Linked DNA regions of Homo sapiens: all the other regions are linked to region 6. Evidence: fine-mapped expression QTL. A gene starts in region 6. Each other region holds a variant in brackets. All regions are shown on one strand. Distances are between the middles of the regions.

Region 1 (4,176 bases), 22 kb after region 6:
AAATGGAAGCAAAATGTTGCTAAATTGCTAGATGAAAAGAATACTTGTTTTACTTGCCATTCTTTTCATTACTAGGTAGGCTGAGGACTTTTAAAGTGTTTTTAGCCTCTTTTGTTTTCCCTAGTGAGTTTTCTTTGTTTTGCCATTTTGTCTGTGTGGCCATGGTATATATTTCATTTTGTATGAGGTTTTTAGCAATTTTAATAATTTGTCATATTTTTGTCAGATCTTTGCCCTACCTTTTTTTGTTTGTTTGTTTGTTTTTGTTTCTGAATTTTCTTCTTTTAAGTAGCAAGCTTTAAACTGTTACATGGTCAGTGATCTACTTTTCCATTTTGGTCTCCTTTACGTGATTGGTGAAAGTCCTCCCCATTCAGAGGTCAGATGCATGTGTGTGTTAATTTAATTCTCTTTTGTGCTTGTTTACCATTTAACTCGTCGACCATCTGATTTATTTGTTTTCTTTTTATTGAATTATGAGAATTCTTTATATTTTCTGGGTGCAAATCAGAGACAGCATTTGCAGATATTTTCTCCCAGTGTGTGGCTTTCCTTTTCATTCTCTTAACGGTGTTTTCTGAAGAGCAGAAGTTCTTAATTTTGATTGTTTACTTTACACATTTTAAAGATCTGTATTGTGTTGTATCTGGTGTTGTATCTTAAGAATTCTTTGCCTAACTTAAGGTCACAAAGATTTTCTCCTCTTCTAAAAGTTTTATAGTTTTATATTCAAGTTTGTGATCCATTTTGAGTTAGTTCTTGTGGTTGGTGCATGGTATGTACTTTTCTTATGGGCCAACAAATTTATTTGTAAAAAATTCAAAGAAATGATTTTGCATAAGAAAATAACAGTTCTCGCCCTTCGTGGTGTGTTAAAGAGGAAGGAATGCTCTCCTCTGTGTAGATCTCTTTTCATAGATGCAAGATAGTACACCTTGCAAATTCTGCTGTCATTGCTATCAAAATTGCTTTCAAAACACTTAATAAGGAAAATGCAGTAGTGTGCATAAATATCTTTTGTCTGCTTTTTAAATCTTAAAATAGAGCTTGCTTCTAGGTGAAATGTACACTGAATATTCTTGGAGTATATCAGAATCAGCCCTTGTATCAGTTGGCCTAAAAAGTGAATCTTATTTTCTTTCTCTTCAAAAACTAATACTGATAAATGTGTTCCTTCTGGGTAGGAGGTTGTATTTTTTAATCCAGGAAGGATGAATTTAGATATCATTGAGTTATGGAAAAGCTTTAATTTAAAAAATATTATACTTAATTTCACAATATAAAGTTTTAAATGAACAATACTTCACGTTAAAATATTTTCAAAGGTAAATACTTGATTGAATACCAACTGACAGTTTGATGATCTTTTTATAGCTTATTAGTTTTTTAAATTGAATTTTAATGGAGACTCAGGCTGACAAAGGTCAAAATGGTATGGAGACCTCCAGAGCACTGCTTTGTATGCCTGAAAGGCACCTACTCAACGAGAAGCCAGCAGCAACTCAGCAGGGTTTATTTTTATTAGTATAGCTTAGCTGGGATAGAACAAAGCTGGATTTCAGCCAAGTGTGGTTCTGCAAACAGCTTTGTCCTCCAGACTATCAGTTAACTAATGGGCTTACAGGCTCAGATACCTGGTTGGTCAGACACTAAAGCTGAAGCCTTGGCACCTACAATGATGTATCTGAACCTCCCTTAGGTGAGAGAGTTGGGTTCTTAAGCCACATGCCCCTAAAGTGATGGTACCATTAAAACTAGGCTAAGGTCTGGACTTGTTCTGTCAGTTTGGAAGATTTCATTCACTTAAGGAAGGAAAAATTCCCCTCTACCCCGGTTTTTCTTTTTTTCTTTTTCTCTTTTAGAGACAGGGTCTCACTGACACCCTGACTGTAGTGTAGTGGTATGATCATAGCTCACTGCATGCAGCCTCTAACTCATGGGCTCAACCGATCCTCCCATTTTAGCTTCATGAGTAGCTGGGACTACAGGCACACGCCACCACAACCCAGCTGATTTTTGTATCTTTTTTGGTAGAGACGGGGTCTCACCATGTTGCCTAGGCTGGTCTCAAACCCCTGGGGTCAAGTGATCTTCCTGCCTCGGCCTCCCAGAGTGCTGGGATTACAGGTATGAACCACCATGCCTGGCTTAAATTGTCTTTCTTGTCTTTTTTCGTTGAATTCTTTTTAAATTGTGCTAAGATACATATAACATAAAATCTCCTATCTTAGCCATTTTAAAATGTATGGTTCAGTAGTGTTAAGCATATTTAAATTCCA[A/G]AACTCTTTCCATCTTGGAAAGCTGAATCTGTATCCATTAAACAGTAACTCCACGTTTCTCCCTCCCCTCAGCATCTGGCAAGTGCCATTCTGCTGTCTCCGAGGATTCAACCACTCTAGGTACCTGTTATAAGTAGAATCATACCGTTCTTGGTTTTATCGAGACTGGGTTATTATCATTTAGCATAACGTCTTCAAAGTTCATCCATGTTGTGGCATGTGTCATAATTTCCTTCCTTTTTAGTGTTGAATAATATTCAATTATATGTATGTCTCACATTTTGTTTATCCATTTATCCATCGATGGATACTTGGATTGCTTCCACCTTTTGGCTCTTGTGAATCATGATGCCATGAATAAGGGAAAGGATATAAAGTTTTTCTTAATCTTCTTAACACTTTGATGCCCTCTACTATTACTACTAGGCACTAGTAGATATATTAATACTGTTGGTAATATTTGGAATTCTGGCATTTGCAGTTTCCTTGGTGTCCCACAGAGCCCTATGAGTTCCACCGTGCATGTTCCCTGAACAAGTTTGAGATCCAGTCTGTAGATGGGAAGTTTCTTACCAACACTCAGATTCTCAGGTTCTCTGGGAATGTTGGAGGTCAGACACACCAGACCCCTGTTCCTGCAGGGCAGTGATCAGCTGGAGTGGAGGAGTGGCCTGCCTTCCCTGATATATGTGTTCAGCCTACCAGTCAGCACCATCCCATATTGTCCTACAGCTGACCTACTGCCCTGTTACCCACCTGCTTGGCCCCAAAGCCTGTTGAGTTGGCATAATGTATTTCAGAGAAAAGCTCTCAGGTAATCTGTATGGCTTATAAGGGAAACCTGCAGTCCTTTCTGAAAGGGGAGCTGTGAATATGACTGCTTTGTAGAAAGATGTCTTAGGATTCTGGGTGAAAATTTTTAATTCCCCTCATGTAGGAATGTCACAGAGTGTACCTTTTTGACTTAGTATTTTCCTAGTAAAATACACCTTTCTTAAGAAAATGGCTACAAAGTCAGATGCATGTAAATGCTTTCAGCAAGGGTTTGTTGATCATCTGCTTTAGGCTGGGCTCTATGTTAGGTGCCTGTGGATTCCATTCTAGTACCTGTGTTCTCATAGAATTGAATCCTGGTCCCCCATATGACTTTTGATGATATTCACACTGTTAATTCCAATAAAGACAGAGTAGACAAACAGAAACTGTACATGAAAGGAATAGCATGAAGTTGTCGATTTTTAACAAGTATTATAAATAATGAAACGGTCTTTTCACTTTCAGATGAGAATTTTCCCTTTTTTTTTTGGTTCACTAGATAGTAGTTATCCTAATTCAGAAGTTCAACTAATGTAAATATCCATTGATTGAGAAATTTTGTATTTTTGTTGTTTTCAGTTACTTGTTGTAGTTTTCTTTTTGGTGAGTCTTATGATTGGCTTTATTGTAATAGAATGGAACACAAACTTTGAAAAAAAAAAAAAAAGGTCTTGCATTTTTGTCTAGACTATGCAGCTACCCAGTGGATCGCTGCTGAATGGAACAGGAAAGTGACAGATCCTTGGGCCTAATGTATCACTGTGTTGTGGAACTGGTCATTCATTAGAAGAGGTCCCTGTGTATCCTTTCTATCAGGTCCTTCTCATATAAATCTTGCTGCCTTTGTTGCATCTGTTAGACAAATCAGTTCGTTGCATTGAGGACACTTGAATATTTTACAGTTTTTTTTTTTTTTTTGGCAAATCTTGAAGCTTGTGACTATCTGAAACTCTTTTAATACCTTTTGAAGGATCAGAGCCCTGCGTACCCCAGGAATGCACACCGTTTTTTTGAAAGTGTGCTCTTTCCTTTTGTTCCTAATCAGTAATTATAGCCCCCTAATGGTACCTCTGGAGCAGAT
Region 2 (4,000 bases), 94 kb after region 6:
TTCTAACTTTGCACTGGATCATCCATATGTCCATATATTTCCATTTAGTTTATCTTTATGTATTAGCCTCTGGGTACATTCAGAGAGATAATTTAAAAAGAAAAACCAGCACCACCATCAACCAACATATCAGTTTTACCCAAGGCTCAAATATCTATTTCTTTTATCTAGGACTACTGCTGGTCCCATAGGATACAGTATTTTCCCCAACCTTCTCTATAGAGTTGACTCATAATATTTGTGTATAAAAGGAAATAAAATGTAGGGCAGAGAAGGAAGTCACTACATGGTGATATATTAAGAAGATAGGAAGACACATTTTAAGAGACAATTAGAAGTTAACTTCAAAGCTAAGTTAATTTACTTAATTGTTCTAACTTTACCATCTTAGGAGCCACCTAATATTCACTTACTTGAAAAGACAGAGTAATTTGGGATTCCATTTCCTCGCTTAATTTAAGACAAATATAAAGGATGCGTAGTGACACAGCTTCTGCTGGGTAATTAATAGATTACTTAGTAATAAGGATATTCCAGAAAGCAAATAAGGGTCTAATTCACACTGAAACAATGGCATTTTAAGGGTTAACGGTCATCTGTGAAAGTCCAAAGTGCACATCACACATAAGGCATATTGGGACCCATGTTGGACATTAGCAGGAAGCCTATTTAATAAAAATTTCTACTGGCTTTTAGGAAATGTCATTTTTCCTGGGGTGAATAGTGCATTTGAGTACAGCAGGAGATTATCCTTTGCTCGGTATCCTGCCACGGCAGGCCTGTAAACAAAACTTTCACTCTAAGAATTTCTTTAAAATGTCCAACAGCTTGGAGAACCTGCAGAGAAACTGTAGGATATGAGTTTGGAAGAGCCGGATGCTAAGGCTTTTCAGATTTTCAGCCATAGAAGCCAGCAGGCCTCAGCTTTTCTTCACATTTGGTCACCCAGGAAAAATAATAGCCGGACAGTGTCTAATTTGAATGACATCTCTATGGAATTAGGAGAAGCACACATTCAACCATCTCCATCTCCATTTACAATCCCACACAGTCCAACTGCAGCTTATTAAATCACCTGAATTCCACACGCTGGTCCTCTTAGAGGAATTACCAAGTCTGATCACACTGCCCACCCCACATGTCTCATTCGAACAGAGCATTAGAATCTGCCAGGCACCCTCTGCCCTTCCTACCTTGTGCTCTATCTCTGCCACGGTGGTCTTTGTTGCCTCCAATCTCTCTACCAGTTTGGTGTCATCCAGAAAGCTTCCCTCTGCCGCAGAAAGGCGCAAAAGGAGATCGTCTTCCAGATACTTGAGCTCAATTTTAAAATCATTTTGGTGCTTTGTCAATACCAACTAATAAAAACCAAGAAAAGTGTGGGAAATGGTGGTTAAGTACTTTTTTTTTTTTTTTTTTAGAGGAAGTCTTGCTCTGTCGCCCAGGCTGGAGTACAGTGGTATGATCTTGGCTCACTGCGACGTGTGCCTCCTGGGTTAAAGCGATTCTCCTGCCTCAGCCTCCCGAGTAGCTGAGATTACAGGTGCCTGCCACCACATCCAGCTATTTTTTTTTGTATTTTAGTAGAGACGGGGTTTCACCACGTTGGTCAAGCTGGTCTCGAACTCCTGACCTCAAATGATCCACCCACCTAGGCCTCCCAAAGTGCTGCCATTACAGGCGTGAGCCACTGCGCCTGGACAAGTAAATGTTTTTAAACCAGAGTTTCCTTAATCACAAATTTCATGGAATCAGTATATAATAAAACACCCTTAACATTAAAATCATACCAATCACAATTTTTAGAAATTCTTTAAAAAACTTCAGAAGGTATGTTAAGATCTAGTTGCACTCCAGGGTGCAGAGTATAAACGCTTAACAATAATTTAACATCATGAACCACAGGAAGAATCTGTTTAAGAAAACATCAGAAACTTCTGGTTTCTGCTCAGACATATAAAGGCTTAGAAGTCTCATTTCCGTTCTCAAAA[T/C]AGGAAAAAAACTCATCAACAATTCTTCCTACATACATCAGAGAACGGAGGTCACAGGACAAATTGCCATCCTAAAAACAGGCAAACACAGAGAATCACAGCTTCTCGGGAACACTGACATGCAAGTAGAGCTTGAATTAAAACTTCAGAGGGGCCCAGTCTTCGTAGTCTCTACACTTCTTTGAGTTTTACCTCCAGGAAATGCCATCCGGTTCTTACAGTGAAGGTCAGATAAAATCTACACCAGCTCTGGGCTAAGGATGGGAAAAGTAACCATTATGACATAAGCTCAGAGGGAAAGTAACCATTTTAAATATGTCCAGAACTTTCTGTTCTCCTTAACCAAAGCCTGCCCACAAGGGAAACTACTTGGCCAGTGCCTAATATGACCTGGATGTATTAATCTGCTCTCAAGGTGCGATAAAGGACTTCCTGAGACTGGGTAATTTAAAAAGAAAAGAGATTTAATTGACTCATAGTTCCGTATAGCTGGGGAGGCATCAGGAAACTTACAATCATGGTGGAAGGGAAGCAAACATGTCCTTCTTTCCTTGGCGGCAGCAGAGAGAAGTGCCCAGCAAAGGGGGAAAAGCCCCTTATAAAACCATCAGATCTTATGAGAACTCACTCACTATCACAAGAACAGCATGGAGGAAACCAATCCCGTGATTCAGTTACCTCCCACTGGGTCCCTGCCACAACATACGGGGATTATGGGAACTACAATTCAAGATGAGATTTGGGTGATGTCATAGCCAAACCATATCACTGGGGAAGGCAGAATTCCTGTCCTTTAAAAAAGGCTGAGTAACTCTTCTGAAGGCCACATCCCAGTGATTCACAGCTCCTAAAAAACCCTGAGATGTAATTATAAGAGAAAAGAATGCTTCCCCTCCATAATACCTTACCAACACATTGACAGACTCCAGTATAATATCAGTGGATTATAACTGAGAGATTTGCAAAGCACAGATTCTATTTAAAAATCAGTTTTTAGGGAAACCTAAGGACAACAAGGGAGACAAAAACAAGGACACCAGGTAAAACTGCAGCTAAATGAACATGAGACACAGCCGTAACTCCTAGCCCTGGAAACATAAAACCTCACACTAAACCTCTGTTTACTTTTGTGACAGTTATCTAATACATCATGTCTGGTTTTCAAGGTTTTCAACAAATAAGTACAAGGTATACTTAGAGGCAAAAAAAAAAAAAAAAAAAAAAAGAAGAAGACAGAACGCAAACCTCAGGACAAGACTCAGATGTGGCAGAAATTTTGGAATTATCAAACTGGGAGTTAAAAATAACTACTTAATGTGCTAACGGGTTTAATGGAAAAGTGAACACCATGCAAGACCACATGGGCAATGTAAGTAGAGATAGAAACTCAAAGAATGAAAAGGAAATGCTAGACATAAAAAACAACGTAACAAAAATGAAGAATTTTTTTTCTTTTTCTTTTTCTTTTTTTTTTTTTTTGAGACAGAGTCTCCTCTGTCGCCCAGGCTGGAGCGCTGTGGCGCCATCTCGGGTCACTGCAAGCTCCGCCTCCCGGGTTCACGCCATTCTCCTGCCTCAGCCTCCCGAGTAGCTGGGACTACAGGCTCCCACCACCACACCTGGCTAATTTTTTGTATTTTTAGTAGAGATGGGGTTTCACCGTGTTAGCCAGGATGGTCTCAATCTCCTGACCTTGTGATCCGCCTGCCTTGGCCTCCCAAAGTGCTGGGATTACAGGCGTGAGCCACCGTGCCCGGCTGAAGAATGTTTTTGACGGGCTCATGAGTAAACTAGACACAGTGACAAGAATCAGTATGCTTAGACATATGTCATTAGATACTTGAAAAAAAAAAAGAATAAAAATTAAAAAGGAAAGAATATCCAAGAACTGTGAGATGCTTACAAGGAGAAAAAAGAAAAAAATGAGCAGAAGAAAGATTGGAAATAATGGTAGCTAAAAATTCTTCAAAATTAATGAAAGATACCAAACCAAAGATCCAGGACACCCA
Region 3 (4,000 bases), 60 kb after region 6:
TTACTTCAAACCCCAGATTCTTGTTATTCTATATTACTAAAATAGTTTGTATTATATGATAACTTTAAGGTGACCTGGTACCTTATTCTCTGAAAGTGATTTACTGTATTTCTTAATTAACGCTGCCAAATACATGCTTTATGTGAGAAGATGTTTTCTTTCTTGACTTTGGCCAGAGACCCTCTAAAGCCCACTGGAGAACTCTCTCTGAGAGCAAACTCATTTATTCAACAAGAAACTCACTGATCCTCCTAACAGCAAGATATCACTGAAAGCATTCTGATTCTTTGGATAAGAGCAGCAGAACTTTAAACCCCACACCATGAATGGGTTGCTTTTTGATCATGTTCCAATGCAACCAAAGACACTAATTTCCAAATATGTTAACCACTTGTGGGAAGTGGCAAAAAGATGTCCTGCAGATGAAGTGTTAGATCATGTTGCTAATCATATAAACAGCATAAACAGGAGAAACGTGCATGAGAACAAAATAACTGGGATTTGCAGCCTCTGACAGCAAGTCAGTTAAGTGCTTTAATTTCCTTTGGTGAGTTGAGGAGGTACCTCTCCAGTGAGGATGCCAGCTTGCAAAATGAAGCATTTCAATCCTGGAAACCTCGCCAGATCTGTATGTAAGGTCAGGTACCTAAATTTCTAAAGGGCTTACACACATCACTGATGCCCCTTCAGGTTTCATCACCTATATTTATTTTACAATTATTTGAATGGGAGTTCAGGCTTGTGAAGGTTAATGGACTGCTGCATTTGGCAACAGTAATTCTCCCCTCAGCCACAGGCCAGAGCTAGGGGAGCTCCTCGCGGGCCCCTTGCCCTCCACCATCATTCGGAGAAATCAGCCTCTGTAAAGGTCGCATGCCTGGCACTGTTTAGCTTTCCCATCTCCATGGTAACTTGCTCCCAGACCTTTCCTGAGGAGTGACTTCCAATTGTGCTAAATTGGAAGTCTCTCTCTGACATGTGAAATCTTGCTCATTAGAACTAAGGAAAGACCATGAGACTCACAATCAAAAGAAACAATTACATAACATTGTGCATTTTTTGCACTGTCTCCAAACTGTTCCACATTATTAAAAGTAGTAACAAAAGAATGTCCCCAGTTTTCTATATTAGACTAAAATACACTATGTTTTCCTGGTGTATTTTAGTCTAAAATAGACTAAATATTAGACTAATATGATTTTAGTGATTTAATCTAATATACACTAAATATTAGACTGATATGATTATATTACTTCTCAAAATGAACTCTAGGAAGGTGATCAAATCTATATAATGCTTCTCTGAGGTGAAATTTTCAGAGAAACTATAAATAGGACATCACTCAAACTATTCAAAGCATTGCTTTAAACAGAGTTGGTGTCTCGCCCAACTGGAAATAGACATGATATGGTGTACAGGTGCTTTACGTTTCCAAGAAATAACCAGGAATGGCCATGAACCTGGATGCCATGAGGGAGAGAGAGCATGAGAAAACTACAGCCACCACGCTCACCCTCTGTAGTACGAGAAACAAAAATGGAGTACTTTTTCCAGAAAACACAGCCCCGGGCTGGAACCATTTCTACACAGACACAGGGTTACTAAGATGAGAAATGGGAAAAGGATGCTTGGTCTTTTAAAACTCCACCTACAGGGGTGATCTACCTCTTCCTCACGAGAGAAGGAAGAATGAGGTTCTCAAATCACCATACTTGTCTTTTTAACTGACACATAATAATTGTACATATTGATGGGGTACAATGCGATGTTTTGATACATGTATATGTTGTGTAATGATCAAATCAGGCAATCAGCAGGCCCATCATCTTAAATATTTCTCATTTCTTTGGGGTGGGAACATACAAAATCCTCTCTTCTAGCTATTTTTAGATATACAATATTGTATTGTTGACTACAGTTACCCTACTGTGCAATAGGACACGAGAACTTACTTATTCTTCCTTTCTAAGGATGGTAACTTTGTATCTGTTGACCATTCATTCCCCATTCTCCCCTTCCCCAGTCTCTGGTAACCACTGTTCTATTCACCATTTATAGGAGATCAGCTTTTTAAGAGTCTTTATGTGTGTGAGAACATGTATTTGTCCTTCTGCGTCTGACTTATTTCATTTAAC[G/A]TAATGTCCTCCAGGTTCACCCTGGAGCATCTTTTCTCTTTTTAAAAAACATAACTATATTACTTTATTATCACACATAAAATATTAACGGGAATTCTATATTACCATGATATGTTAATGTTAATTTCCCATTGTGTCATAAATGTGTGTGTTTTTTTTTTTTTTTTTATAGTTCATTTGGAACAAGATCCAAATAAGGTTCTTACCTTGCCCTTGGTTGATATATATAATCTTTTTTTTTACTATCTTGTTAGATTTAATTTTATTTTAAATTGACAAATAATAATTATATATATTTATGGGGCACAGTGTGATGTTTTGATACACGTGTACATCGTGGAATGGTTAAATCAGGCTAATTAACAAATCTATCACCTCACATACATATTGACCACATTTTTCTTGAGCACATATTATAATTGAGTAACTGATACTGGTCCAACTGTAGACTATTTTCTAGGACTTCCATGACAGGCAGAAAAGAAACTTTAGTGAAATAAACTCTGGAATAGAAATCAAAAGACTTCTATCAAAAGACGCACAAAACTCTTGCCTGTGCCAACCTAGTGGCCTGGGGCAAATCCCCATGTTTCAGCATCTCGGTCTAGAAAAGGGAATAACAGCGTCAGCTCTGCATACCTCATAGGGTTTTTATAAAGAGCCGATGAGTCAGTGCATGTGAGGCTGCCTCACGCTGGTGCACTCTCTAGCACACACAGAGATCACCTGGAAGACTTGTGAAAATGCAGATTCTGATTCTGTAGGTCTGGGATGGAACCCGAGATTCCGCTTTTCTAAGAAATTTCCCAAAAGGCCAAGCATCCTCAATAACATTAAGAATTGCCCATAGTATAATTAGTTTATAAAATTCTTACCAGAATTTTTTGCTCAGTGAAATTTATTTACAAATTAATTTACAAATGTCTTACCAGAGATGGATTCATGAATTCTTCTAAATACACCCGACACAGTTTGCGATCCCAGTCATCTGTGATGTGGCCTCCATACATGATCTCACCAAAGAGATAACGGAGATCTTCCCATGGGACCTGTGGAGAAAACCACACAAATATTCACTGCTGGGTGCAGAGTCTGCCTCAGAGTAGCCAACCAGTAGCACGTGCCCCTCTAACACAATGCCCTCCAAGCCTCCGTCAATAGGAGGATTTAAAGGTGCTTCAGAAATTGTCTAAGTTTCTGCAGAGAATTTCTTGGGAGAATTATTTTCAGTGTCTTCTAATATAGTCAGTGAAAATTCACTAACATTGAGCTGTTTATGAAGATTTTTTTTCTTTAAGAGATGAGGTCTGGCTTTGTTGCCTAAGCTGGAGTGCAGTGGCACAATCACAGCTCATTGCAACCTTGAATTCTGGGGCTCCAGCAATCCTCTCGCCTCAGCCTCCCAAGTAACTAGGACTACAGGCACAGGACACTACATCTCGCTAATTTTTTAAAAATTTTGTAGAGATGGGGGTCTCACTATGGTGTCCAGGTTGGTCTCGAATTCCTGGCCTCAAGCCATCCTTCCTCCTTGGCCTCTCAAAGTACTGGGATTTACAGGCTTGAGCTGCCATGCCCAGCCTTAGGCAGATTTTAAAAGAAACTGAGTCATCCCTAGAACATGTTTGCAGGGAAAGTTTATACATTCAAATTCTCATCTAAAAATTGTGAAAGGATGTTGGTTCACAGGGCCTTTGAAGTATGACATGTTTTTATTATCTGCTTTATATCAGCTTGTATTATCTGATTCAGGAAAAGAAAGCAACATCCACACAATTTGAATTTGGGGTGTATTTAGAATCCTAGTATTTTCCAAAAGTCCAGGCAAACAAATCCCCTTGCCACAGATGGAGCTGAGGGCTTGT
Region 4 (4,000 bases), 47 kb after region 6:
TAATGACTAGCATAAGGTTACTGTGTGAGTGAGGAGATGCTGAGAAACAGTAAGCAGAGGACAAACACTGATCTGAACCTGAGTAAGAAAAGGTTCCCCACTTACCCCTTGGGGTGTCTTACCCTCCATGAAGAGTCCGTGGAGGTATGCACCTTCCCTTGGCGGGTGTCCATAATCTTCCTTTGTTTTTTTGGTAACATCAGCAGTCAAGCGCGTTTTATCCAGGGGCCACTCATTTTTTCGAGCCATCGTCTGCATGATTGCTTTGGAAATATAACAAAAATTGAATAGGATAAAAGTGTTGCATGTAAGGTTCCCGGGAGCTACCAGTAAATTGAGGCATCCTTTAGTCCCATAGGGTGTTTTAGGTTCTTGGGCATTGGCACATGGCTGCGCTGGAGCAGGGGGTTGGCCAACTAAGGCCTGCAGGACAAGCTCGCTGTTTCTGTAGATAGTTTTATTGGAATAGTCACAGCCATTTGTGGATTGTCTGTGGTTTTCGCACTACAGTAGCAGAGAAGCTATGTGGCCCTTTCCAGAAAATGTTTAATAAGAGCACACCGTGCCCCACCTCACTTGGCTACTCTTGCTGCTATAGGAGGTCCTTTCCCTCCTGCTGCTACTCGCCTGCCCAGGACTCTGTTTCCTCTATAGCTGCTGGTCCTTTCTATAATGGCTGCTGCTTGAGGATTGGTGAGCAGGGCAAGGAGACGCCATCATAGGTAAACAAAGCAGGGCTTCTGGTTAGGCTGTGGTCCTGTGTGCATCAGGGGCTGCACTGCGTCAGCCCTTACCAGTTAAGAAGGACTGAGGGTTGAAGAAGCCGGAGAGCCACACGACAGCCGGAAGGGTAAGGTCTTGTGTCCAAGTATCGAGTTCTCGGCATCGCAGGAGGAGGTCATTGAACCTGGTTTATGGGAGGGAGGAAGAAAAACTTGCTGTTCAGTAAAATAGCCATTTTCCAGTATGTTCTGTTGTGGGCGGTTAGGGCAGGGTGGTGGTGGAGGAGAAGTATACCACTGCTAGCTGGTAAAATCCTTCCCTGACAATTTGCAGGGCACTGTCCCTTTAAAGGGCTAGTTTGTTTCCCATTGGAGACTTGATGACTGTAGCGTTTACATTAGAGCAAGATACACTGAGGAATGTGGAAAACTCATTTCCATTTATGCAACAGCTTTTATTAGAGCCTCTTCATGCTATGTGGTGACTATACAAAGGTCATCACCCTATGACTTGGACTGACAAGCGCCAACTTGGAGGTATGGACAGGGTGTCTGAGGACCAGGGATGGCAAGGCTGTGATGGTGGTTACAAGACCAGAGTTGCCGGGAAATCTGATTGATAAGCAGAGGGAACAGCATGTGCGGAGGCAGTGGAGCACGTGACGGCAGTCTAAGCACGTGCAGTAGCTGCCTGAAAGTGGGGAGGAAAAAGGTTAATTAGGAAAACAAGTCAGCCAGGAATGGCACGCCGGTGGGTTGAGAAACGCTGCTGTTACGTACATGTTCTCTTCTCGGCTCCTCACAATTGGGCAAGGTAGGAAGTATTTGCAGTTGACCTATAAGGAAGCTGGCTCACAGAGGCTAGGGACAGATGAACCTCTTCGATAAAATTAAGAGA[G/T]AAGTGAAACCTTGAATTGTAAGTTTCAGAGGCTGCTTAAAGGGGACCAGGAGAATGGAGTAGAGAGCATAGCCTCAGTGTAAAAGCCAGAGTTCTCTAGAAGGAAAGGCTGGCACTGAAGTTTTCTAGGACCTTGTCTGCTTCAGATATGCAAAGGAAGTGGGGGTGAATGAGGAAACACCCTGACAAACCACATGGCAGAACATGTCTGCCTGAGATACTTGCCTGACTCTGGGCCGTGAAGAAGAAAAGGCTCAGAATGCTCACGGTCAAACTTACGTCACCACAAGGAAAATCTCTGTGCCCGGACCTATATTAAGTTCTTCCAGATAGCTGGATCCGAAAAAGCATACTCGACGATAAGAAGAAGAAACAGCATAGGCACCACACAAAGGAAAAAGGCGAATGAGAAAAGCAAAGGCAGGAAGACATTTCTCTCAAAATGTTGCCATCATGAGGATAAACACTGCAGACAATTTGTAACAACTAAAACAAGTGATTGTTGATATAAACAAGATCATGACTTAGAAGGGATCAGGTAGGAAATAGTAAGGAAATTAAGTTTGAAGACCCCAAATAAGAAGTAGAAAATAAAATTATAGAAATGAAAGCAAAAGTGAAACAGCGTAAGGGAGAATAATAAAAACAAATGGAAATAAAGAGGTAAAGGGTTAGAGTGAAAGCAATAAAATGAAAGCTGAAATGAGGCCAGACGTGGTGGCTCACATCTGTAATCCCAGCACTTTGGGAGGCCGAGGCAGGTGGATCACTTGAGGTCAGGTGTTCGAGACCAGCCTGGCCAACATGGTGAAACCCCATCCCTACTAAAAATAACAAAGTTGGCCGGGCATGGTGGCACATGCCTGTAATCCCAGCTACTAGGGAGGCTGAAGGCAGGAGAATCGGTTGAACCCAAGAGGCAGAGGTTGCAGTGAGCTGCGATCACGTCACTGCACTCCAGCCTAGGCAACAGAATGAGAATCTCTCAAAAAAAAAGTGTAATTCTAGAAAATTTGAGTTTTCCTAAATTATACCTTTGAATCTATACAATCAAGGGCACATCATGTTCCAAGAAAATTTGGTAGAGAGTAATCAATACTAAAATATAAAGAATAATATGAACAATGAAGAATCCCTGGATGGCCAGGGGAAAACATGAAGCCATTTATAAAGGGAAAAGAAGTATGCTAGCTTTTGACATCTCCACGGCAGCATTTGACAAGAGGAGAGTGATGGCTACAAAGGCCTCCAACTGAGGGTGTTATTATATTTTAATAACTGGCCAAACTGTCATTCAGGTATAGACATAAGAGTATAGGGCATGAAAAACCACCAGCAAATCCAACAAACAGGAAGGTTTATAACCCAGGAAATAGAGAAGTCTTGAAGAAAATACTTACTTGTAAGTATGTTTAAACTTCTCAGGAAAAGAGAATAACAGTCATAAAAACGAAAACAGGAAATTATAAAACTAAGCTAGGCACCCTTCCAAAAATATAAAAAACCTGGAACTGATAATTATGGACGATGAAATATACTTTATTTTTTGAGACAGGGTCTTGCTCTGTCACCCAGGCTAGAATGCAGTGGCATGATCATGGCTCATTGCACCCTTGACCTCTTGGGCTCAAGCAATCCTACCACCTCTACACCTTGAGTAGCTAGGACTACAGTCGCATGCCACCACACCTGGCTAATTTTTATTTTATTTATTTTATTATTGTTTTTTAGAGACAGGGTCTCATTATGTTGCCCAGGCTGGCTTCGAACTCCTGGGCTCAAGTGATCCTCCTGCCTTGCCCTCCCAAAGTGCTGGGCATGAGCCACTGCGCCCAACCTGGACAATGACATCTAAATAATTAAGAAACAGATTGGAGACAGTTGAAGATATAATGAAGATCACCCAGAACTGATGAAGTCTACAAGTATACAGCCGAAAGACACACTGAAAACGTTAAGAGGTCAGGCAGATAAATGTAGACATGAGGAGAATACGATATTCAGAGAAAAAAGTGCTAAGACTTTTTCAGAATAAAAGCTATGGATGGAATCTCACATTTATGACAGTACTTTAAAAATCCATACCTCAGTACAATAGTAAAATTGTTGAACATCAAGGGTAAAGAGAAACATTTTAAAACTTTACTTGGGAAGGAATGGCAAATATTTAAGACCAGATCCACCCTCTACAATCAAAGCTAGAAAACCATGGAGTTAGAACATCAAAGTGCTGAAGGAAAAATAATCGTGTCCTATAATTCTACGTATAAGTAAACTATCAATCAAGAAGGAGAGTGCAGTGAGGACAGTTTCAGAAACACAAGATGATTTACACCCCCACCCTCCAAGCCCTGCTCTATATTTTATACTCTGATAAAAA
Region 5 (4,000 bases), 350 kb after region 6:
GGTGATTAGGTCCTGAGGGCAGAGCCTTCATGAATGAAAGTACTGCCTATATGAAACAGGCCCAGGGGAACTTCCTCCATGTGAGGACACAATGAGAAGTTGGCAGTCTGCAACCTAGAAGAGGGGCCTTGCCAGAAACTGATCATGCTGGCACCTGGTCCTCCAGAACTATGAGATAACCATTTCTGCTGTTTTAAAGCTACTCAGTTTAGAGTATTTTGCTATATCAGCCTGAACATACGGAACCCCTAGATTACTAGTAAGAATGGCAACCTACCAGGTCGGCCTGCCTCTTCCCTAGCCTCCCTACAGAGGGTCTCAACACAACAGCCAGAAATCCTTTTAGAATGAAAGTCAGATTGTATTTACTCCCCTTCTCAAAATCTCAAAATTCTGCAGTGTCTTTCACATACCTCAGAGTGAGCCAAAGCCAGAATCTGCAAAAAGGCCTATGAAGCCTCCCCTGAGCTGCCAGTCCCTCACCACGCAGCTTAGCGTCTGACCTCACCTCAGCAACTCTCCACTCAGCTCCCTCTACTCCCCCCACACTTACTTCCCTGCTCCTCCTCGAGCATGCCCAGGGATCTCCTGCCCCAAAACTATCTCCTCTGCCTGGAACACTCTTCACCAAAGGCCCACTTGGCTGACTCTATCACCTCTGTCAAGTCTTTGTTCAAATTTCACCTTCTGGTTGAGGCCTACTCTGATCATCCTACTTAAAACTGCATCCTCGACCCCACCCTCCAGAATTCCCTTGCCCTGCTCCAATTTGATCTTTTTCCTGCAGCGCGTACCAGTTCTAACACAGCACGACTTACTATGTCACTGCTTATTGTCTCTCTCCTCACTTGATTCAAGTTCCATGAGAGCAAGGAACTTTGTCTGCTCTGCTCTCATATTTCAAAAACCTAGAAAGGTGCTGGGTACACACAATGCTCACAATAAATATTTCTCAAATAAGTGAATGATGATGGACTGCAAAGACAAGATACATAATGGGTTGCATACAATTCCCAGCAGGAAAACCGTAATCTATTTCTTGTTCTGCTGAGAATTATCCTAGAGACAAGGACCTTCATTTTACACATGAGAAAATTCAGGCCCAGCCTCTGGAAGACTCTGGTTTCCAGCCTTTACCAAGGACACTTTCCCTACCCCACACTGTGCTACTTCATGATGGCTTCAGAGTGTGTGTGTGTGTGTGTGTGTGTGTGTGTGTGTGTATGTGTGTATGAAAGAGTGTGCATGAGGGAGAAAGAGTGTGTGTGAGTGTGTGTGTGATATGTGAGAGGAAGAGACTGTGTGTGAGAGTATGTGACATACAGAGAAAAAGAGTATGTGTGTGTGAAAGAGAGTGTGTGTGTGTTAGAGAGAGAGAGATTTTGTGTCTGGGGGGAGCAGGGGCAGGGGAGGGGGTCTGTCTGCCTTGCCCAAAGGAGAGTATTCATGGATTAAGGACTGTGCTGGTCTATAGAGAAGACTCCACATAACAAGGATGCTCAGAGGAAACATGAAATACGCTCTTTCATTCCTATCCCTTTTTTCCTTAAGAAATAGTAACAACAAGAAATCAACTCCCCATGTTCCCATCATCAGCATTGCACATCTGTGAGCACCACATTCCTATCTTTGCCTTCCCTCCATCCTGTACTACAGATGAATGCTCCGCGCTCCTGTCTAAAGACACCTTCTACAGGTATTTACTAAATCCCATT[TC/C]CCTCAATGGCTTTCTTCCAACAATTTTTTCTCCTTCCTAGATTACTGCAGTTAACATACAAACATCCTGAAACATCAACCACTATTAAAAATAAAACCCTCCCCACCCTGATACACAGGCCCCAGGTACTGCCCAGTTGTTGGTTTGCCACACAGCAGAGCTCCTCAGGATCTCCTCAGCTGCCTCCACTCATATTTCCCCATTCTCTCATCAGCCCACTCCCACCAAGCTTCCACTCTGCCACCACATGAAATCACCTCTCCTCATCCCAATGACTTCCGTGCTGCCAGATCTGAGGGTTAGCCTCCGTCTTTATTTTCAGGTCCTACGTCAGGATGGGACAGAGTTGAGCTCTTCCTCCTCCTTGAAATCCCTTCTATTATTGGTTTCCAGGGCATCACTCTCTCTTTTTCAGTATCCTCTGTGGGATTTTCCTCTTCTCCCTGACCTAGGGAGGACTTCGAGGCTAGTTTTTGGGCCTCTTTTCTATCTACAATTCCCACATGTTCTTAATCTAATTATATGGCTCTAAATACCATACATATGTGCATAAATCTCAATTCTCTGTTACTTACCTGGATTTTGCCCTGAACACAAGACACATTTGCAATTCTAGTCTACTCAAAATGTCCCTTAGGACAAGCATCTCTAACTAACTTGTCCAAAACCAAACCTCCTTTTTTTTTCTGCTACAAAATCTGCTCACCACAGTCTTCCTCATATCATTAAAGGGCAACCCCAGTCCAGTCCAATCACTCAGACCAAAAACCTTGAAATCATCCTTGACTTCTCTCTCCTCTGATTCCTCAAAGCAAATTCTGCTGGCTCTGCCATCAAAATATCTGCAGGATATGAACTGCCTTGATCACTAGCACTATGACCCAAGGCAGCATCATTTCTCACCTGGATTATTAGCATAGGCTCTGAAGAGTCTCCCTGCCAACCACTTCTTTGCTTGCCTGTGGCTTACCCTCCACAGGGAAAGCCTTTGAGCAGAAAGTCTCTGGCTGCTCTTTCCCCTTACGGTAAAATCCAAAGTCCTCATAACAGCCTGCTAACCCCACATAATGTACCATTAGTCTCTTCTACCTCACCCTCTACTACCACTCCCCTTGCAAATTCTGATCTCAGTTTGCTGACTGATCCTGGAACAGGCCAGGCTGCTCCTGCCTCAAAGTGTCTATACTTTTGCTCTCCAGAATGTTCTTCTCCTGATATCCATATGCTTTGTTCCCTGTCAGTTCTCTGCAGAAATACTATCTTAGGAAAGAGGCCTGCCCAACCACCCTACCCGCAAGCGACTCCCTATCCCACCTGCTCTGCTCTATTTTTCATCATTGCTCCTATTACAACTGACATATCTATTTGTTCTTTTCTCTTGCTAACTTCCTCTGACTAGAGTGTAAGCTCCATGAAATAAAGGATTTGGTGGTGGTTGGCAGGGGAGCATTGTGTTGTTTGCTTTTATTTTCCTGCCTTCTGCCTTTTGTGTGTGTGTGTGTGTTTTTTTTCTGTTTTCTCTTGCATTCACAAGCCTAGATGAGTGCCTGTTACTGTTTTAGGAACTCAAATCTTTGTTAAAAGGAGAGTAATTATTGTTGCCACCCTTAGGAGATGGTTGAGAGGGTACCTTGAGATGACCTAAGGAAGTTGTTTGTTTGGCACATACGAGGCAGTCAACAAACAGTGGTAGCTATAAGGAGCATCCAAAAGAGGATGCAACTGTGACAAGATAAAGATTCTATCACTAGCCTTTCTGTTTAATCAACACATCTCACATTCTAATCTCTTCCCTCAGGAATGACAGTGGTGAGGGCTACAGAAATTGCAGGCAAGTAACACAAATTCCTCCACTTTAAATGCCTAATAATACCATTCATAAAGCTCTTTCAGGCTTGATAAAAGAGTCCCACATTATTAGGTTAAAGATTTTTGCTCTTCTCTGAACTCAATGAAAAGATCTATAAATCTTGAAAGGTTAAAAGCCATTACCTCGACCAAGTTGTGGATCTTGCAGCCATCTCCTTGGATTAACTTGTATTTTTTTGTAAACAAATCACCCTTGTCCTCCAAGGTGAAGGCTGCCTCTCGTCTGTGCTCTCTCCTGGGAGGTAGCACGCACCTGGCCCAGCCCCTCATGGTCTGCTGGATCACCTTCACGTTTTTCTGTGTGCGCTCAACTCTGTGCTCCAACTCGGACGTGGCTGCCCTCACCCTCTCGATGTAGCCCCAGCAGTCATCCTGCCATGTCAGCCACGTTGTGGCTGCTGTCAGCTGCTCGTC
Region 6 (4,176 bases):
TTTGCAAAATCTGACCTGCTTCAAATTTGTGCTCCCTTTTCCAAAATTGATTTGATTTAACCTACAATGAAAAGAAGTGCAAACAAGATCAGCAGTTCATGAGGAAGCAACTATCTAAAAAAAAAAAAAGAGGAAGAAGAGCTCTGATTGAATTAATTTTCACTCTAAGCTTCCTGGCAGCCAAAGGGAAAAAATACAGAAAAATGGAAAGAATGTTGGATCTGGAGGCATAAGGAATGGTTTTCAGTTTGGCAGTCTGCTGCTGTCACTTAGTGGCAGGGTGGCAGGGATCTCTTAATGTATTTTCTTAGATTCTGTTTCCTTATTTTAAAAATGTGGACAATAAGGATCTGGAAGGATATTGAGAGGATTCAAGGAGATACTGCATGTGAAGGAAAACTCTAAAGCATAATAAAAATGAAGTGGCCATAATGAATAAATAACATTATCCAATAAAAACAAAACATTTTAAGTCACACAATGTTGTATTGGTTTTACTACCACCAGGAAGTGAGAACACTGAGGGCTGGAACATGAAAGCACATAACACATGTTGTTTGCTGAACTAACCAAAGGAAGGAAGGAAACCTTTTCCATGTTTTCTCTTCAAGCTTGAGTAAATGTTTGGCAAATTTCATTCACTCGTTCAATAAAGAAAAGATGAACGTCAGATCCTAAGCAGCTGAGAGGGGCTGCAGAAGGTCCTATGCGTACAGGATGCTCTACTGTAAACCTATGACCACGGTTCTAAATAGGTGTGCAACACTGTCCAGCAAACCTGCTGTGATTTCAGGACAACTTCATTTACCATTCTCCCCACTCTCTACTTCAACTCTCCCACAATTTCCACAAACTTAATTCCTCACTCTTCATATCTGAACTCTAAGAAGTATTCCCTGACCTCTATCAGATTGTCTTCCTATTTCACACCACCATTAATACCACTTGCCTTTTTTCTCATGGCATCATCGCTCCAAATTTACATTTATTTGCATCATCATTACATTTGTCATTGATAGTGGTATCAAATTAATATTAATTATAAATCTAATTTATAAAATTTACATCGTTATTACACTTATTTGCATCATTATTGTATTTATTTAGAATAATGCAATTAGGTTGGTAACTGGCTCTCAGGCTGTAAACTCCAACAGAGCAGGGGCCTGTTTTTGTTCACCCTTCTGTTCCTAGGACTAGCCCAGTGCCTGATGCTTAGTAGATGCCGGGGTCAATTCTGTTAAATTAGTCAGCATTCCTGACCTCTACAAACTCTTTGTCTGGTGGGTGTGGAGGCCTACTGTGTAATGGCCGTCTAAAGTTTCAGGCGGGTTTGCATCTGTCCACCTGGGCCTTGGTAAAGAAACCTGGGTTGCCTGTTCTGCAAAGTGAACCCTGTAGCAAATGTTTTGGGAGACAGAATCTTCCCAAAGAGAACCCTGCCCCGTTACAACAACAAAACAAAACAAGCCCCAAAGCCGCCCTACAATATTTGCCTGGATCAGAGACAGGGGTTGCAGCAGAAGCTCGCGCCCCAGGGCATGACCTGGAATAAACCCTGCCAAGTATCCAGCGCGCGTGCCAGCTGGAGGCTGCGCCGGGACAGCCCCCTCATTTCTCCCGCGCTAAACCCCGCCGGACGGCTCCACTCCCTCCCTCTGCTGCAGGGGGGAGCCCGGCGCCCTAACACTGGTAATTGCTCTTGCCGCGCCCAACTGCAGCCCCCTCTCGCGCCGCCTGCGAAGACAAGGTCAGTGGCCGCGAAGTTGGAACGTGATCGGAGCCACGAGGCCCAGTGAGGCGGCACCGAGGGGGCAGCGCAACGCGCTCCCCCTGTCCAGGGCGTCAAGTGCGCCCCTCCCGGGGCCCGCCTGTGCTCCGGGCGGAGCGCGCTAGCTGCTCGGGCGCGGGGCGTTCTTGGTGCGCCGGGCCGTGGTGAGTCCGGGCTCCCGTGGCCGCGTGCTGGGAGGAGACTGGAGCCCGGTTAGGAAGAATGGAGTTGGCGACTCGCTACCAGGTGAGGGTCCGGCCGCCCGCCGCCGTCCGGACGCACCCACAGTTTGACTTCCCTTTGCCACCCGGTCCTGCTGGCCTTGGGCTGGAAACGTGGCCCTTGGCTGCGGCACTGGGGATCTGGCGCGCCCAGCCGGTTGAGTGCCGGAGTGGGCGCGCCCTGCAGGTGTGCGCAGTGGGTCACGTTTGTGCTACGCGGACCACAGAGGCCGGTCGCCCCAGCACACAACCGCGCTCAGCCTGGCGCTCTGCTCAGTCTCGGGTGGCCGCCGGGGGTGCAGGCGGGGAGCTAGCGGGGCGCAGCGCCTGCGTTTGCAGCCCTCGTGAGACGGGGGAGGGGCTTTTTTTGTGCACTCCCCACACTTTCTCCGGGAATTGGCACAGAGATCAGGAAGCTTAAGAAAGTTGTAATTTTTTTTTTTTAACAGTCGATCGCCAGACCAGTCCAACTTGGATAATGGAGTTTAAAAATAATAACTTTAGTGTTTATTCTAGAACTTTTGTAAACGTTTTCAAGGAATTAGTAACCATTTGGGGGAAATGGTAACGTCATTGGGCCGAGTTAAACAAGCTGCAAGATCCCAAATCATATGCACAGCACGACCCCAATTACGCGTTAAGGGCCTAACTCGTCTTTAAAACTCATTAGCAAACACTTGAGTAAGTTCCCCCAAACGTTTCAGTGAGTAGTGGGAATGTGAACGTGACTTCAGTTTTCTCTTTTTACTTCTTAAAAGAGCTTTTCTCTACGTTATCGTAATGGAGATACATGTTTACTTAGAAGTAAGCAATAAAAACATTTTTCATAAGAACTAAAAATACAACCTTTAAAAAGGGAAACAAGCAGCCACGCCTCTGCTTGTGGGAGCACGGAGATGCTTTGTGCGAGGATTGTTTTTTTTTTTTTTTCCACTTGTTTTATTGAGAGTCGCGAGACTCACTGCTTCCACCTTGCTTCCGACTGGTGTTTACTTTCCTCCACCTGCGTGCCTGGCCCGGGAGAAGGGGAGGCGGGGCCGCCAGCGTTGGAAGGCGCAGAGTGCCCGGCGCCCGAGCCCAAACCGCTGTCACCTGCCCGAGTCTGGCGGCAAAGACTGAGCCACTAACGGTAGCTTTGGCCTTTTAGTAATTTCTGAAGCCTTCCTGAAAATGGTCGCTTGAGAAAAATCTGTTGTTGATGTTTCTGAGAATATTTTTAAAATGCCTCCTGTGAGATAAACTATTAAAAGCAAGGGAAACAGTAAAGCCTACGGAATGAGACAGGGTTCGATTTTTTATTTTTTGCCACTGGCTTTTACCGTGTATTAGCATCCTTTTTTTTTTTTTTTTTTTTTTGGAGACGGAGTTTCGCTCTTGTCCGGGGTGGAGTGTAATGGCGCGACCTCGGCTCACTGCAACCTTCGCCTCCCGGGTTCAAGCAATTTTCCTGCCTCAGCGTCCCGAGTAGCTGGGATTACAGGCGCCCGCCACCACGCCTGTCTAATTTTTTGTATTTTTTTTTTTTTTTTAGTAGAGACAGGGTTTCACAATGTTGTCCAGTCTGGTCTTGAACTGCTGACCTCAGGTGATCCACCTGCCTCGGCCTCCCAAAGTGCTGGGATTACAGGCGTGAGCCACCACTTCCGGCTGGCGTCCTAACCTTCTAGGAGTTTCTGTTGCTACAGGACTAAAAACAAAAAACAAACCCTCTGGATGGAGATTTGAGCTCCTTGTGAGTTTAGTCAGAAAATGTATCTGGAATTTATCACTCCGGAGCTCCTTGTGAATGTAATCAGAAAATGTTTCTGGAATGTGTCACTCCTGTTGTTAAGCTGGAGAGTTCTTTGCACTTCCACTACTGATATTCATAATTCATGCTTAGGAAACTCAGAAGTCCCAGAATGTGTAGTTGGAAGTGAGCGTTTACTGCCACACAATGAGGCTAATTTTTGGTAGTTCTAAAATGTTAAATAAACTATTTATCATGTAGGGGTTACCCACAAATTATATCCGATCCATTATGCACCAATTAAGGCAAATTACTATATGTAAGATGATCAGGGTTTTTTTTTTTTTCCTTTTCTGAAGACCTAATTGGCAGTGCAAATCAAAGATGTGTGATGGTTTTTCCAGTGGAAATGTTCCTGTTCATCGTAATTTAAATGTGCACAGATTATAGTCTCT

Which allele goes with the higher level. Alleles are on the strand shown, and positions count from the first base shown. SD is a standard deviation of normalised expression in the study named. Not every link is listed here.
For the expression in cerebellar hemisphere of the gene that starts at base 1,899 in region 6, allele A in region 1 goes with a lower level than allele G (moderate effect, 0.53 SD a copy in GTEx).
For the expression in esophagus muscle of the gene that starts at base 1,899 in region 6, C is the low allele of the variant in region 5 and TC is the other (small effect, 0.25 SD a copy in GTEx).

What was found.
Region 1: its variant is fine-mapped to the expression of CDCA7L in cerebellar hemisphere (GTEx, PIP 0.93).
Region 2: its variant is fine-mapped to the expression of CDCA7L in whole blood (INTERVAL, PIP 0.99). The same link has a PIP of 0.9 or more in T cells.
Region 3: its variant is fine-mapped to the expression of CDCA7L in whole blood (TOPMed, PIP above 0.99).
Region 4: its variant is fine-mapped to the expression of CDCA7L in whole blood (INTERVAL, PIP above 0.99).
Region 5: its variant is fine-mapped to the expression of CDCA7L in esophagus muscle (GTEx, PIP 0.95).

What each region holds. Positions count from the first base shown.
Region 1 is chr7:21,921,180-21,925,355 of GRCh38, reverse strand. The region is part of intron 1 of CDCA7L (cell division cycle associated 7 like); the gene reads left to right. Among named protein-coding and RNA genes, the nearest start is that of CDCA7L, 23 kb to the left of the region's middle. The variant A/G (reference allele first, on the strand shown) is at 2,280.
Region 2 is chr7:21,849,825-21,853,824 of GRCh38, reverse strand. DNAH11 (dynein axonemal heavy chain 11) reads right to left here. Exons shown (of 82, transcript NM_001277115.2): 67 at 1,194-1,358. Among named protein-coding and RNA genes, the nearest start is that of CDCA7L, 94 kb to the left of the region's middle. The variant T/C (reference allele first, on the strand shown) is at 1,992.
Region 3 is chr7:21,883,475-21,887,474 of GRCh38, reverse strand. DNAH11 (dynein axonemal heavy chain 11) reads right to left here. Exons shown (of 82, transcript NM_001277115.2): 76 at 3,065-3,184. Among named protein-coding and RNA genes, the nearest start is that of CDCA7L, 60 kb to the left of the region's middle. The variant G/A (reference allele first, on the strand shown) is at 2,136.
Region 4 is chr7:21,896,243-21,900,242 of GRCh38, reverse strand. It overlaps DNAH11 (dynein axonemal heavy chain 11), which reads right to left. Exons shown (of 82, transcript NM_001277115.2): 80 at 795-907; 81 at 123-263. Among named protein-coding and RNA genes, the nearest start is that of CDCA7L, 48 kb to the left of the region's middle. RefSeq lists enhancers at 1,871-1,930, 882-2,081. The variant G/T (reference allele first, on the strand shown) is at 1,621.
Region 5 is chr7:21,591,287-21,595,286 of GRCh38, reverse strand. It overlaps DNAH11 (dynein axonemal heavy chain 11), which reads right to left. Exons shown (of 82, transcript NM_001277115.2): 14 at 3,710-4,000. Among named protein-coding and RNA genes, the nearest start is that of DNAH11, 50 kb to the right of the region's middle. The variant TC/C (reference allele first, on the strand shown) is at 1,716.
Region 6 is chr7:21,943,622-21,947,797 of GRCh38, reverse strand. CDCA7L (cell division cycle associated 7 like) reads left to right here and starts at 1,899. Exons shown (of 10, transcript NM_018719.5): 1 at 1,899-2,017. The coding sequence starts at 1,994. RefSeq lists enhancers at 1,301-1,550, 1,235-1,945, 1,941-2,090 and a silencer at 2,231-2,280.